Linked DNA regions of Homo sapiens: region 2 is linked to region 1. The links come from fine-mapping of genetic effects on gene expression. A gene starts in region 1. The other region holds a variant in brackets. All regions are shown on one strand. Distances are from middle to middle. Region 1 holds the start of HECW1 (HECT, C2 and WW domain containing E3 ubiquitin protein ligase 1). Region 2 holds the start of LOC124901619 (a long non-coding RNA gene).

The links. PIP is the estimated chance that this variant, and not a neighbour inherited with it, causes the effect.
Region 2: its variant is fine-mapped to the expression of HECW1 in fibroblasts (GTEx, PIP 0.94).

What each region holds. Positions count from the first base shown.
Region 1 is chr7:43,109,623-43,114,992 of GRCh38, reverse strand. It overlaps HECW1 (HECT, C2 and WW domain containing E3 ubiquitin protein ligase 1), which reads right to left and starts at 2,346. Exons shown (of 30, transcript NM_015052.5): 1 at 2,056-2,346; 2 at 602-836.
Region 2 is chr7:43,245,966-43,251,335 of GRCh38, reverse strand. The region is part of intron 3 of HECW1 (HECT, C2 and WW domain containing E3 ubiquitin protein ligase 1); the gene reads right to left. LOC124901619 (a long non-coding RNA gene) reads left to right here and starts at 2,038. Exons shown (of 2, transcript XR_007060295.1): 1 at 2,038-2,153. The variant T/C (reference allele first, on the strand shown) is at 2,451.

The DNA.
Region 1 (5,370 bases):
TAACAATCATATCAGATGGAAGCATAATAGAAGGTAAAGCTCAAAGTGATCTTGTAATACATCCATCTTTAAAAGCCAGAGTGTAAAAGGAATCAAGTCAAATGATGCTATATACACAAATAACAGAGCTGCAGTCCCTCTGTATTGATACATTGATGGGCTGTTCCAGCTCCGGATGTGACCTCCCTATCAAGTCAATAATGTCACAATCTAAACAAACTTAGGCAATTTGCCTTCATGAAAAAACTACTCCAAAAAAAAAGAGAACTGTCATTCCACAAAGCAGCCAACTGCACTAGACTGGGATTATAGTGTGGAATTAGTCAGAACGTGGATTATTAAATAAAACACTAGAACGGCCAATTTGCCTGGAGGTCTAGGAATTAAAATAGTGCTTTGTTTTTCCAATGCCACATTCCAGAGGAAGCAGCAAGCGGAGGGAACAGGCAACAGGGAATTCTACCAACAGGGAATTCTACCACAATCTATCTCTCTACCAAACAGGCACACACATTCATACCAGGGTGGGCATGTGGACTCTAATCCCTTCTTAGTGGAAAACACACATTTTTAAATGAATCCCCAATCTAGAATGAATTACCGTAATAGCCACAGCCGGAGTGAGTCTGCTGATGAGAAACGCAGATCTGGCCACCTGCTTTGAGACGCCTTGGACCACAACACTGCCGGGGTCTTTAACGGTTGGCCTTTTCGGGTAGGGCATCTGCCCTCCTAAATCGCGTTTAAATCCCAGGAAAAGAGAGAAGATGCCTCCCTCAATTTTTGAACTATGCTGCTCTTGCTGTATCCGTTTCTGCTGAACATAGCATTGATATCTTTTCAAAGAGAAGGGGGGAAAACAAGGGGAGAATTGCACCACTGCAGATTCCAAGAGAAGTAAGCACAAAACTACAGCAACGTCAAATAATATCTTCTTCGGCAACTAGGAAAATCCCCACATGCTCTCTGGTGTCAGCCCAATGCAGACTGAGGCGCGCTGTGCCCGGAACCACAGGAAGCCGGGCATCTCTGCAGCCTGTGTCCCTGCCAGCTCCCCCTACGCGCTGAAATTCGGCAGGGAAGAAGTTATGGTGCCCAGCCTCTGTGTGCAAGACAGAGACACCGCGCATCATGGCTCTGAAAATCAGCCAAGTGGCCGGGACGTCAAAGCGGCAGAGCAATCAGAATGCCCTGGAGCCGGGGATGGAGGGGCCACATTGTTTGAGCCCTCGGATTTTGCTGCATTGTCACCGCCCGGGAACGTGGGGGTAGCAGGAAGCGCACCTCCAGCCAAAAATGGACCGGACGCATTCCCCCCCCCTCCCCGCCCCGGCAGCTCCCTCCCTGCCTGTCTGCAAGTCGCAATACGGTAGGCGACATGACTGCTCCCGCTAAAACTCAGGTGGCAGGCCCGGCTGAGCGGCGCAGCCGGCCGGTAACAGGGAGGCGCTGGGGGAGCACCCACACAGCGCCTCCTCCCCTCCTGCACCCGTCCATGGGAGCAAGGGCCGGACCTGGCCACGCGCCCCTCGAGCGAGCACCGGCGAGCCCGTGCGGAGGCTCTGGGCGCTCTCTGGGCTAACCACGGGCATTGCATGGGACACAATTGTTCAAAAGCGAGCCCAAGGCGAAGCGCAAATCCAGAGCTTTGGTTCACAAGGGGTGGGTGTGGGCTGGGAAGGGGGATTACGTAGGTCTCTCCGCCCCCTCCCCTGACACCTCCTCGCCACTGGGAGGGCGCTGAGGGGCGGGGGAGGCGCTGCGAACCCGCTTGGGGGCTTCTTTGTTTCTCTCCGTACCCCGCAGGAGGGCCGGGTGCGCCTGCAGTACCCAAGCCGGGGTCGCCACCCGGGGATGCCGGCCCGGACCGGGCGGCGGCGCGACCCAGGCTGACAATTGAACCTCGCGGGAGAAGCGAGAGGGTGGGGAGGAGGGTGGATCTCGGCCCCGAGAAGGGAGGGCGCTGCCGGGGCCTCGCGTGCGGCGGGGAAGCCGCCCAGAGAAGGGCGGGGGGGAAGGGGCGGCAGACAGTGTCCCCGCGCTACGCCCGCTTACCTTGGCAGCCCTGGCCTGGGCACAGATCATGCTCCTGTCAGCGCGCAGATTAGAGCTGGGGGGCGCACGTGCCCCGCATAGTGCACCGGGCGCCTGGGACTGGCTGGGGAGGGGACCCTGGCGACCGCCCGCTCTCGCTGCGCTCTGGCTGCCGGGTGCCCCGAGAGAGCGGAGGCCACGGCCACTGTCACGGCGGAGGGGCGCGCGCGGCTCGGCGAGTGTGTGCGCGAGGAGGGGGCCGGTTCGGTCAGAGTCGCACGGTGTTCCGGCTCCAACAACAGCGCCTGATGCGCGGTAACGCAGCACACTTCATCGCTTTATCCTCCCGCTTGCATCCCCTCCCTCCCTGCCTGCTCCTCTGTGGGTACCAGACTCCAGAACCAACCACAAGCCGGGCTTGCTCTCATTAGCGCTGCCCCGCCCTGCAGCCTCCGCGCACCCCCACCCCCGCCCCCGCGGTAAATATATATCGATTCTTGTTACCGCCGGCCCCATCCTTCCAACACCCAGCACGCGTACTGGGCATATCCAACACCAACCCTGGCTCCTCGGCCCTTTTGTGTGTGTGCAAACAGTGTAGCAGAAAGGATGCGGTACAGACACTCTAGGCGGGTACCCTGTGACAGGTGTTCTTGGCCTCTGTCTTAGACACTTTCCTCGCTTACCTTACACACAGTTAAGAACGCTCAGAGACACATTTCAGGAACCGTCCTGTATTTGCACAAGCACACAAAACATCGTAATGACAAATGCAAAGGATGAAAATCACCCCAGAATATCTATTGTTGGGCAAACCTAGCTCCCAAACCGCGTTTTCTATTACACTGCACACAGTGTCAGAATGCTAGAACGAGAAGGAGGCAAAGTCTAGACCCTTCCAGGTACAGCCAACTGAGATGCAAAGAGAAGTGAAATGCTGGTTACTATTGGTGGTTGGCTGCTCCATGTATGCACATTTTTGTGCATCTGGTCGACATTTGGTTTGTGTGTGTTCACATAAAATGCAGAGGCTTTGAGCACATAATCTCTATAGCCTGGGATTTTATGATCCAACCACATTCTCTACAATGCTGATTTATTCCTTCCCATTATTTTGCCCAGCATCCTCTACATGAGCTTTTTTTCACTTTCTGAGAAGTTATCTTCTTTCCCAGACCCCAAACTCCGCCTCCTCTAGAATAAACAAAGGCTTCACCCTGACTTCAGAACTCCTTACTGAAGACCTGAGTACGGACTTGTCAAAACCAAATCTCCTTCCCCTTCCACCCACAGTGGCTAGTTTCTCAGTGCCTCTCATTCCACTGACCTGCCTCTTGGCATTGATTTCACTCTTACAACTGGAACTTTCCAGAACTGGAAACTTTGGACGATGTGAAGGCAGCTTCACCAGCTGTGCTCTTTTCTGCAAGGAGGCACAGCCCTTCTCTTTCCGTATTCCACTTGGGGTGCCCAGTCCTTTCCTGACAGACCCTTTTCTTTGCCTGACAGCAGTCAGATCTTCTGGTCAGATGAGCTCAAAGCAGACCATTTTCAAACCTTAGCTAAGAATCCACACAGAAAGCTGTGCACACATTTCTCCGGATTTTACACTTGGATTAGTACCAACTCCTATATGAAGAAAACTCTCCGAGAATAGACTTGAACAGGCTGTGGCAGTAAACAGCAACAGCAACCAACCATGTGATGTTTCCAACCAGAGACTTGAAAGAAAACAAAAACTTTCACATAAACCAGCATCCATGGTTTCTAAATTAGCACAATGTCACCAAACCACAATAAAGGATAATTTTTTTACCTCAACTAATTGCCAGGATGTTCACCTCATTATTTTCAGTGAATCAGCATCAACTTGGCTCAGAGATGTTTGCTCTCTGTTCTATCCATCATGGAGATGACTTGACAAGTCCACATCTCTCATAGAGGTTATTGATGTAGCAATCCTTGTGGTGTGCTTTATCCTCCCCTGAGGAGTTGCTTTTTTTATACTGAAGACAAAAGATATTAAAATAGCAGTACACAAAGTTTCACATCCTGAGTAGATAAAGAAGCCTTGTAGAGCAGCTTCTACATGTCAGGTGCAATGGCAGCATATACAGACTCCTGTGTATTGTCCCCTTTTATTTTTATTATTTTTATTTTTTGTGAGGGGTCTCACTCCAATGCCCAGGGTGGAGTATAGTGGTGCAATCTCCATTCACTGCAACCTCCGCCTCCCAGGCTCAAGCAACTCTCCCCCCTCAGCCTCCCGAGTACCTGGGAGTACAGGTGTGTGCCACCATGCCTGGCTAATTTGTTTTTTGTATTTTTAGTGGAGATGGGGTTTTGCCAAGTTGCCCAGGCTGGTCTTGAACTCCTGAGCTCAAGCAATCCTCCTGCCTCAGCCCCCCAAAGTGCTAGGATTACAGACGTGAACCACCATGCCTGGCCTGTTTTGTTTGTTATTCCTAACAGTCCCCCTGTAGTCTGGGTAGCATGATCCTATTTTACAGAAGAAAGCAAAAAGGCTATGTTAGTTCTGTAATTTCCTTAAGTCTTGTTTCAAGCAGAAGACCTTGAATCTGGAGTTTACAGATGTCAGCTGCCCTAACCTTAAAGAGAAGAGTATTTGGTGGAGAAAGGAAAAGACATGGCATGAATCTTAAAGCCATCCTAGTAGTCATATTTATTAAGTTTCTAATGTACTCAAAATACTGTTATAAATAATAAGTCACAGTCCCAGTGCGTCCCTCCTAATACTAACCTTATATAATGGCGTAAAGTGAATGTTGAAGGTTTTGAGATGCATATACAAACACCTGTATTATCATAATGCCCATGCAACCGAATCTTCCACCTTTTGTAACTCGAGGCCCAGGAGGACCCAGGGAGGGGGTGACATGCCTGCTCACCTGCTCATCTCAGGCCACATGCAGATAAAGATTAGCAAACAGAGCACCATTCACAAATGGTCCCTACAATGCTGAGAAAACGATAACTTGAACCAATCCGGGGCTTTATCTTTGGGGATAGGCCTTCAACATAATGTCGGAAGTGAACGCACTATAACTAGGGGAGGAAAAAGACCGAGCTGTTGAAGCTATCTCACATAGTCTCTGCACAGGAGCAAATTGTAGCCAATAATACAAGATTGTCATTTGGACTTTCCTAATGACTAATGATGGTGAGCATCTACTTTTGTGCTTCTCTTCCATCCGTCTATCATTTGTAGTAAAGTGCTCAAAATTTTTGCTCATTTTTAAGTGGGTTGTTTGCTTTTATATTGTTCATTTTTGAGAGTTCTTTCTGTATTCTAGATACAATGTCTTTGTCAGATAA
Region 2 (5,370 bases), 140 kb before region 1:
TCCATCTCAAAAAAATAAAAGAAAAAAAGAAAGAAACTAGATTTTGTGCATCCACATTCAGTCCCCTGTCCCACTAGGCTAGGCAAAAGGAATCTGGGATTGCAGAAGGACAGGGCTCATTCTTCGACAGACAGCTTCTGTGACTTGGCCTGGGACTCTGATAGCTTGGCACCTTCACCACCCCTTGCAGCCCTCAAGGAGAGGCAAACCTCAATAAAATGACTGGGAGAGAAAGCCAGAGGAGGAAGCATCCACAGGGCCCATCCAGTAAGGGGGGTGGGGTCCCTGACACCAGAAGCATTGCTGCCCTGGGAGAAGTAACGAATGATTGTAGGGCCAGCAACAAAATAGGCTAAAACACAGCTGCCTTCAGAGGAGGTGAGCTAAGTAGGAGTTGTGAGGATCTGAAGGTCATATGCCCTCCGGCCTAACAGGGCCCTCCTCACTCAGCTCTGTGGCTAAGCAGAGGGTGGGCCCAGGACTGTAGGAGCTTTTGATTTTTTTCAAGAGAAGCTAAGATTCTGAATTTTTACATAAAATTGCCTGTTTTTATTTAAAAAATCATTAATAAAATCAAACCTAAAAAATCAAAAAGCACCGGCAGCCAAATAAAATAAACTTGCAAGGGAGCATGAGTTGGTGACCTCTGGGCTATTTTTTTACGCAAGTTCAGAGAGACAGCATGGGTTTTTAGATTGTACCCAGAGGCGGAAGTACAAGGCAGGGCAGGTACACACAGGACGTTCCTGGCGCTCTCTTCTCCACCTTCCTTCCCCTGTCCTCTCTTCTTAGCACTTCCTAGGGCTTTACATTGTGTTCTACACTTGTGTGGGTTCTTCATTTTCTGACACTCCTTCTCACAGCTAGAATAAAACCTCCAGGAGGCCAGAGACCTGTTTGCTAACAGCTGTATCTCTCATTTTTTGACTATATCTGGTACACAGTAGGCGCTCAATAAATAGTGGCCCAGTTGAAAAGGAATGACTGGTCCATGCTCCCATCTACAACATCCAAGCCAGGCTGAGTTGGTGTCACAGACCCCTCATTTCAGGGTCTGTCATCGAATTCAGAGTAGTTCATGAGGCTGCTGTGGACCAGAGTGACCCAGCATAATCCCTATCCAGAATTTTAAGACAAATACAATGCTACCAAATCCAGTTTTATTTTGTATTTCTGTGTGTGTGTGTATGTGTGTGTGCGCGTGTGTGTGTGTGTGTTTTGGTTAAAAAAAATCTGCAAGAGAGGAAGAAAAATACACATCCATCCGTGGCGTATATTCAGCTGTGATCATGAAAATACTGAGTTATTGTCTGAAATCGTGTAAAGCAAGAACCTGCATTAAGAAAGCATAGCTAAGCAAACAGGCCCGGGACCCATATCTGCTGACATACCGTGCTATCCTGAGACTGCCGCAGAACATTTGCAAAGCCGTGTTCTCTAAGAATTCTGCACAGTGCAAACAGGCATGAGGGGAAAAAATACTACTAGGGAACTTCTAGTTCTTGCTGAAAAGGAAAATTTTGAGCTCTAAATCTAGCACTACCAAGCAAGAGAGGCATCTGTGGCTGCATATAAAGCTGGTACTCCTTTGCTTGAACAAAATCCCTCAGTATACAGTACTTAAAATAAACAAAGCTCAAAACAGTCAGCTACACACGCATGTTTTTTGGCCACATGCTGCCTGAAGAAAATAGCTATGCAGTGTGCATGCCCTAGTTTAAACCAAGCCTGAATACCGCACAGTCTCATTCCTCTCCCGGTCTCCTTTTCTAGACAGAAATACATTTCCCTTTAATGTACAAGTGAGAAAAAAATATGTTTAAAAGACAGTCCAGGCCCTTGATAAAAGCACTTACTTTGAAAGAACAGGACAGACTACGTATTCAAAACAAGAGCGCCTTCTTAAAGTGCAGGCTCAGAAGTTGTTCAATGGCCAGGACCTTCATTTGTGCTGGCAGCTCTGGTCCTGCTGGGCATGGTTAAGGGCGAGGCTCGCAGCCCGCACGGCGTGGTCCTTCAGGGGTGCTGCGTCAGGCTGACGCTCCGGAACAGTTACTGGGACAGGCTGTGAGCGACTCACCAGGACAGTTTTATTTCTGTGCTGAGCTTGCTGCTTCCTGCTGGGAAAATGTTAGTGGCGGAGTCACACCCAGGTACCGGGCCGCAGCCAAGGCTCCGCAGATGACCCGAGTTCTGATGGAGGTGGGGACGGGCGGCGCCCGGCACCTAGGGGGCAGAGGGCGAGCAATCCCGGAAGAAGACTCACGCTAGGCGATTGGTCTCCTCACGGGAGCTCCTCGACCCTGCCAAGGGCATGACTCAGCTCACCCAGGGCAGTGCTGGACCACACTATTTATCCCCTAAGGTCCAGGAAAGCCGAGTTCAGGCAATGACTGGCGAAGAGCTAGAGGGGAGGCAGGGAGGCCCCTAAGTCACTGGGGTCTAGAGGT[T/C]GTGGCCTCACATGCACACAGATTCAGCCCCTTTCTCTTTGGTAGCTGTTGCAATAGAGTGGCCTAGGACTCCGACCCTGAAAACTATGAGGAGGGGGAGGGGAAACAGGAGGAGAACGGGGAGATGGGGGAAGAGGGACAGGAGAAGGAGGAGGAAAAGGAGGAGGAGGAGGAGGAGGAGGAGGAGGAAAAGGAGGAGGAGGAGGAGGAGGAGGGAGAGTAAAGCAGCCGGCCTTACAATGGAGGTTCCAAATCAATAAGTGTAGAGAATTAATGATGTCCTGATTTTCTGTTGGTGTCAGGATGACAAACTGCAGAGTTAGAAGAGAGGCTTCTCATGACTTTGTCAATTTATATCTGCACAACATTATAACCAAAAGCAAGCCGGAGATTAGTGGAAGTTTAGGGAAGCTGGCTGTGGTTCTACACCTCTGTCTCCTGATACGTTCTAGACCCAGGATGTGTCTAGATGAAGGATGTGGTGGGGCGGGGTATGGTGTAGGGAACCTCAGGATCGTTTTCAGTTTGGAAGATTTAAGCAAGAACATAAAAGTTCTGGAGCCACAGATTTTCTTTATTGTGTAGAGTATGGGGTGAAGGAGACTGATGTAACAATGCCCATTCTGTGTCAGGAGAGGGGTGTTGCTGTCAGGAGCCCTGGGGCTCCACCTCAGCCCTGCGATCTCTGGGTGATCTCTGATGACACACAACCTCTCTGGGCTCCTCTCTCTTTCTTCTTCTTTCTCTCCTCTCCTCACCTCTCCTCCTCTCCTTTGTCTTTCTCTTCCCTCCCTCTCTCCATTGTTTTCCCTCCCTCCCTCCCTTCCTTCCTTCCTCTCTCCCTCCCTCCCTTCTTGCTTGCTTTCTTCTTTCTCTCTTTCTTTCCTTCCTTCCTTCTTCCTTCCTTCTTTCCTTTCTCTTTTTCTTTCCTTCCCTCCTTTTTTCTCTCTCTTTTTTCCTCTTTCCCTTCCTCCCTCCTTCCTTCCTTCCTCTCTCCCTCCCTTTCTTGCTTGCTTTCTTCTTTCTTTCCTTCCTTCCTTCTTCCTTCCTTCTTACCTTTCTCTCTCTTTCTTTTCTTTCCTTCCCTCCTTCTTTTCTTTTTTTCTCTCTCTTTTTTCCTCTCTTTCCCTTCCTCCCTCCCTCCTTCCTTCCTTTCTTCCTTCCTTCTTCCCTCCCTCCCTCTCCCCTTCCTTCCTCCCTCCCTCCCTCCCTCTCCCCTTCCTTCCTCTCTCTCTCTCTTTCTTTCCTTCCATAGCATCTTGCTCTGTTGCCTAGGCTGGAGTGCAATGGCACGATTATAGCCCACTGCAGCCTCTAACTCCTGGGCTCAAGCAATTCTGCCTCAACCACCAGAGTAACTGTGACTGCAGGTGCACTGCCATGCCTGGCTAAAATTTTATTTTTATTAGAGATGGGGTCTCACCATGTTGCCCAGGCTTATATAGACTGGTCTCAAGCTATCCTCCCGCTATCCCCCTCCCAAAGTGCTGGATTACAGGCATGAGCCACTGTGCCTGGTCTGGGCTTCACTTTCGACATGAGAAGTTGTTATGATCCCTCAAATTTTAGTGCCCTATTCTTCCATGTCCTGCCATCTAGCACATGCCCTAAACAGAAGGAAATCAAATGAACCAAGTTTTCCTGCATATTTCTTCCATTGTCCTCCCTTCATTCCTCTACCTTAAGGCAGTAAATTCCACCAAAGGATCACACCTTGGCATTGTAGTCAAAACAGAGCTAAACTCTGAACAGCCCAGAGGAACTGATTTTCTAGTCTTTGGAGAGTATAGCAGACATGGAGCTGTGCTTCTCTTTTAAGAACAGATTCATTGCCTAGTTGTCAGGATGCTGTCAGCTGACAGCTTCCAGCCACCAACTCCTTCCACTCCACCTATGTATGGAGGGGTGCTCAGGCTCTCTTTAGGGTGCCTTGGCCTAACATTAAGCTAGTTGGGGATGCAGGGGTCTAGCCATTCCCACCCAACACTGGGTCTCTGAACAGGCAGTTTTTGCTCCTGAGAGTCCACTGGGCTGGCAGAGGCTCTGCCAGGCTGCAGCCCCCACACAATTCCACTTCCTCCCTTTCCCTGTCACAAACGTTAGTTCTCTCTTGCCCTCTCAGGGGACCTAACAGACACAGAGATGCCAGTCATTTGCAATGCATGTTTTGTTTTTTCTCCACAGAGGGCCTTTGATAGGCTTAGAAAGCCATCTTTGGGTGACAAGATACTTGTCTTTGTAGCATAAAGATCTTCAGCACAGATTTCTTTCTCATTCTCTTATTCACAGATGTGGAAAGGCTTAGTTCCCGTCAGGTCTAGCTAGTGTTTCTCAACCAGGAGTGCATACCAGAATTACCTAGAGACCTTTTCAGTGTGCAACTACACAGGCTTCACGTGCAGAGCTAGACTTGGTGGTTTGCGATGTACCCCTGGTTGAGAACCGGTGTTTATAGCATAAAATTCTTCCTTGTATGAGCCTCTCCCAGAGATAAGCATTCATCCTGCTAAGGATCATTCCAGAAGCTGAAAATACATTAAGTGGTCAATTAAATGATCCCTAGTTTATTTCCTTTCTTTTTTAGAGACAAGGTCTTGCTACGTCACGCAGGCTGGAATGCAGTGGTGCCATATTAGCTCACTGTAGCCTGGAACTCCTGGGCTCAAGCGATTCTCCCTGTTCAGCCTCCTCAGTAGCTGGGACTACAGGCACACACCATCATGCCCAGCTAATTTTTTTTTTTTTATTTTTCATAGAAATGGGATCTCCCTATGGCTCGGGCTGGTCTCATACTCGTGGCGTCAAGTGATCCTCCTGCCTTAGCCTCCAGAGCTTATTTCCAGATATTTTCATAAGTCCACCTAGTAGTGCTGCAGACTCATTTCAGAGCATGATGAATCTTCTTATAAAATATTAGGGG